Linked DNA regions of Homo sapiens: region 2 is linked to region 1. The links come from fine-mapping of genetic effects on gene expression. Tissue or cell type: whole blood. Region 1 holds a variant in brackets; the other region holds the start of a gene. All regions are shown on one strand. Distances are between the middles of the regions.

The links. PIP is the estimated chance that this variant, and not a neighbour inherited with it, causes the effect.
Region 2: it holds the start of SYTL2, and the variant in region 1 is fine-mapped to the expression of SYTL2 in whole blood (INTERVAL, PIP 0.95).

Annotation. Positions count from the first base shown.
Region 1 is chr11:85,592,387-85,595,146 of GRCh38, forward strand. The region is part of intron 3 of DLG2 (discs large MAGUK scaffold protein 2); the gene reads right to left. Among named protein-coding and RNA genes, the nearest start is that of DLG2, 34 kb to the right of the region's middle. The variant C/T (reference allele first, on the strand shown) is at 1,445.
Region 2 is chr11:85,809,758-85,812,387 of GRCh38, forward strand. It overlaps SYTL2 (synaptotagmin like 2), which reads right to left and starts at 1,384. Exons shown (of 20, transcript NM_206927.4): 1 at 1,197-1,384. RefSeq lists a silencer at 1,343-1,522.

The DNA.
Region 1 (2,760 bases):
TATTTAAAGATCCATGATATGTAATTTGTTTGTTTCAACTGAAGCACATGCTTTGAGATTGTGAGTGGCAGCAAGCATTACCTAGGAAATGCCTCTCTCACATGGGCCAGCAACAACATATCAATGTAGCTTTATCCATAGAGATACTTATTGTAACAGAATTCTATCCATAGAATAATTATTGTAACATAAGTAGAAACTATCTTGTAACATAAATAGAAACTATCATTAATTATCCAAAGAGAAAAAAATCCCTTAAATGTTTTAGATATTCTATTGTAAGGCTGGGTGTGGTGCCTCATGCCTGTAACCCCAGCACTTTGGAATGCCAAGGTGGGAGAATCACTTGAGCCCAGGAGTTCAACACCAGCCTGGGCAAAATGGTGAAGTCTCCTTTCCGCAAAAAAAATTCAAAAATTAGCCAGGCATGACTGCGCATACCAGTAGTCCCAGGTACCAGGGAGGCTGAGGTGGGAGGATTGCTTGACCCCAGAAAGCAGAGGTTGCAGTGAGCTGAGACTGCACCACTGCACTCTAGCTTGGGCAACAGACAAGACTGAGAAAAAAGAAAGAAAAGAAAAAAAAAGAAAAGAAAAGAAAAAAGAAGGAAGGAAGGACGGAAGGAAAGAAAGGAGGGAGGGAGGGAAGGAAGGAAAATAAAAAGAAAATTAAAAATAAAAAGATATGCTACTATATTTTAAAAAGAAAATTGGACACCATAATGATAATTGTGAGTTTATGGATTACAAAGTACTCAAGATATGTCCCAGAATGATAATGGCTCATTATAGTCGTTACAGATTAAATCAGATCCTATAAAACACAAGAAGGAAAAAATGCCACTGTCATATTCTCCCAAGTTTAGTAATAATATTCACACACTGTTAATATATTACTTTCCCTGAATGGCCAAATACCTAACCATTTAGAACATAGGTTTTCAAATTTTAACATGCCTCAGAATCACCTGAAAGGATTAGTAAAGTACCATTTGCTGAGCCCTACTTCCAGAGTTTCTTATTCAGTCAGTAGGTCTAGGGTGAGAACCAAGAATTTGCAATTCTAACCAAGTTCACAGGTGACTAGTGCTGAGGTCCAAGAACCACATCTTGAGAATCTCTCTTTTTGAAGATTACAGCCAGGTTGTTTCACCATTAATCTTTAAATGGGTTAACAAAAAAAGATATAAATAAACTAAAAGAATAATAAATACAGCCAAGTTGCTCCAAATTCACACAACTGTAGGGGCCTTCACACCCACTATTTAAATAATCCTTCACTTCCTTATGATCAGATGGCAAAAAATACACATTATGATTAATAATTAAGACCAAAATAGCCGTGATATATTCAAAGAGATGTTATTTTGAAATAAAATTACTACATTCGAATTACTATTAGGAAAATATGTAGGGTTTTTTTTACTCAAACTAAAACTCTTATA[C/T]ATATTTATTTTATAGACCTTACCATCATTATAATTGAATAATAATTAATTGTGTGTTTAATGTCTCTTTTCCCCTACTTGTCCATAAGGGTATTGACTGTCCTCTATAGCTTACTGTTGTATCCCTATTGCATAGCACAATGTCCAACACATAACTGGTATTTTTAAAAGAAGTGTTGATAAATGAATAAAAATTTATTAAAAGTCTATTATAATTATTAAAGGTCCACATTATGGGGATATAAAAAGGGGCAGAAGTATATTCGATTTACCATAAGGCAATGTGATAAATGCTTTTTAGTAATATGAAAAAAATGCTATGAGATACAATGAAAGGGCTAGTTAAAGCTGCCAGCAAGTAGGAATGTGTTAGAAGGCTTCAACAAAGAGATGATAAATCCCAATATGTAATACATCTGCTGTATCACCCCTATTGCTAGTAATCTCCAAAATCCACAAGGTTCTCTGTTAAGATTTATGGAAATGAAATGTACTCTATTCTAACACAAAGTCTAACATGTAAGGTTTAACTGCCTCCATTAAACAAGATAAGCCCTTTTCTAAGATTTTGCCACTGGTAGAGTTTTTTTAAAGTATCATTTACCGCTTGTTCTCCTCTAATTTCCCTCTAATTCCTCTCCAAAAAATTCCCCCTCACACACTGGGAAGAAATATAAGGCAATAAGTTAGATAAACAAGACTAATATGATTTTAGAAGGGGTTGAAATCTGTGAAATATATCTATAGTTATTTCCATACTTTATAAGTAATGACTAAAGAATAACACATAATTTTCAATAAGTTACAAAAAACATTTGTGTTACATATCTAAAATTTAACTAACCCATAATATTATTTATTTAAAGTCTTCAAAAACAATTATGGTGGTAATATAGTTGTTTAAAAATTAAAAGTCAATTTAGAAGTACAAAAATAATTTTTAAAAATGATTCAAGGCCGGGCACGGTGGTGCATGCCTGTAATCCCAGCACTTTCGGAAGCCAAGGCCAGCAGATCACAAGGTCAGGAGTTCGAGACCAGTCTGACCAACATGGTTAAAGCCCGTCTCTACCAAAAATAAAAAAATTAGCCAGGAGTGGTGGTGCATGCCTGTAATCCCAGCTACTCGGGAGGCTGAGGCAGGAGAATCGCTTGAACCAGGAGGCAGAAGTTGCAGTGAGCCGATATCGCACCACTGCACTCCAGCCTGGGCAACAGAGTGAGACTCTGTCTCAAAAAAAAAAAAAAAAAAAAAAGATAAATCTTGCTTCTTTATCACCTAACTGAAGAACTGAAGAATAAATAACCTAATAAAA
Region 2 (2,630 bases), 220 kb after region 1:
ATTGCCCTGCTGCCGTCCCCACACCTCTTCTCCTTCCTAGCTGCTCTTGATGGGTTCTGCAATCTGATTTCACCTGGATACCACACTAAGGGTGAGAAGGGGCAGAACTTCAGGGGTGGAGGAAAGTGAGGGAAGGGAAATGCTGGAGACCTTCCATAGAAATCCAGCCAAGTCCTCAGCTCCTTTCAATCATCCTACTCTATCTGGCTGCTCCATCCAGCAGACAGCAGGGGTCACCATCCTGGTGGGGAATGGCTGCCAACAAGGGGACGGGAAGCTGGATGGCAGTTTGCATCCACCCCACCTTCCAGGGTCTATCTGTCTGAAGCCCCACCGGGCTTCCTCTGCACATCCCTGCCGGGCTGTGTGGCTCAGGGGGCTGACAGGGTGATTCATAGCCTGTTCTTATCTAGGCTTCTATCTCAACCCTGCGCCCAAAGCCCTGGAGGCTGCTGGTCACAAACCAGCACTAAATGAAAAGAAGAACTTTTCATTAAGGCAGGAAGTGGAGCCCCTCAAGGTCAAAGGGGATTTATAAAGAGAGGAGGAAAGAAAGGGAAGACGCGGCAGGATGGGTGCAGAGAAAGAGAGACCCACTTCCTATATGCTGGTGGAGCCCTGTGTCTTAGACGCTAAAAACAGTCGCTTTTCCACTTCAAAGGATGATAAAGCCCACTCGTGTAGTTTATAGCTCGCCGTGGGACGAGGTGTGGGTATGGAAGAGAATTCCAAAACACGTCTTATTTTCAAAGGAGAAATCATCATCCCCTGGCCGGCCCTTCCCAACACCCCACCTGTAAACAGGTGCTGACGCTCCTACCTTTCTGCACCTGAGCAATCTGGGGGCAGTTACTCTGCAGCCAGGTCTCCCCAGCACCCAGCCCCAAGCCCAGGTCAGTCCCTGAAAGCCCTAGAAAACGCGATAGCTCAGCAGAACCCTCGCCTACCCGGGCATCCCAGCTTCCTGGCCGCCTGGGCAGCGGAGGTGGCTCTGGAGTAGGTGGGAAACTGAGGAAAGGAGCTTTCCCCGTGCCAAAACGCAGTTCCCATTTTAGAACTGGTTAGACTAAGGAACAACATTCTACACCACCTCCCTCACTTAACAGAGGAGGAAGCAGAGACCAAGAGAGGGAAACAAAGTTGCCCGAGGTAACACAGCGAGTGGGCCAAGTAGAGACTGGAACCCGAGTGCGCACCTCCGAGTCGCTGCCGGGCAGGGAGCGCGCCTCGCCGTCTCTCTTGTCTTCTGGCCCCCAGCCCTCGGCCTGGCGGTGCAAACCGCGCAGCCCCGGGCGCGGCGCGTTACCTTCCCCCGGGCAAGGCGTTGCGAGCCTTCACTCTCCCGACGGACGCTGGCGGCACGGCCCGGGTGTCGCCCGGCACTGTCAACGCAGAGCGGCGTGCGCGAGTCCCTCCCCGCTACCCCCGCCCCCGGCGGGCGGTGCGGTGGGGCCGGTCCCGGGTGCTCGGGCCAATGGCGCTTCGCCCGCTCCCCGCCCCGGCCCGCCCCGGCCTCCTCGCCCGGCACACAGCGCCTGCCAGCCCCTGCCCTCTCCCCTTCCCTCCCTTCGCCCTCCGCCCCCGCCTGCTGCTTCTCTCCGGTTCCTAGCCTCCTTCTCAAGTGTACCTTGCCCCGAAACAACCTGTTTTCTGTGCAAATAAAGCAGCACTGTTGTTATTGTTATTATTATTTTTATCACGGCGCGTTAGGGGGCCTTGGAGCCCGAGAGTGTGGAGCACTAGGAGCCTCTGCACTCCGAGAAGGGACAGCCACCGCGCAGGGAAAGGGGCGCGGAGGGTATGGAGCCCGGTCATGGGGTAACTTGCTTTAACCCTCGGGACGTCAATTTCCTCACATGTGAAATAGAAGAAGGGGGGAAAAAAGTTGTTGAGAGGACTAAATGAAGTGATGCTTTAAAATACAATAATACCTAGAGAAAGGTGAGGGCGTCATGCACTGCCTGAGCTACTTACTGGGGTATGCACAGAGGACTGGTAAGCTCCTGGAAGACGCTGTGTGGCAGGGAGGCAGACAATGCAATACAGTAAATACAATATTGTGGTCGGGCGCGGTGGCTCACACCTGTAATCCCAGCATTATGGGAGGCCGAGGCAGGTGGATAACCCGAGGTCAGGAGTTCGGGACCAGCCCGGCCAACATAGCAAAACTCTGTTCTAATTAGAAAAGAAAAAAGAAAAATTAGCTGGGTGTGGTGGCGAGCGCCCGTAGTCCCAACTACTTAGGAAGCTGAGGCAGGAGAATCGCTTTAACCCGAGAGGTGGAGGCTGCCGTGAGCCAAGATCGCACCACTGCACCCCATCCTGGGTGACAGAGCAAGACTCTGTCTCAAAAAAATAAATAAAATAATTTAAAAATTGTATCACGACCTATTTTTTACAAGTTACCCATGATGGGGCCAGCCCAGGCAAACCTCTGAAGGAGATGAACCTTAAAGCCTTTTTCCTTATCATTTCCTGGACTAGTGTTGTCCATTTAACTGAGGGTGGCCCAGGTCTGCCTTTGGTTCTTCCAAAGGTCTTCCTTCTCCCAAACTTACAAATACTTATCCCCAAGGGCTTCAGTTAGTGCCCAGTGCAGGCTGCTAGCCTGGCCCAAGAGTCCTGGCACT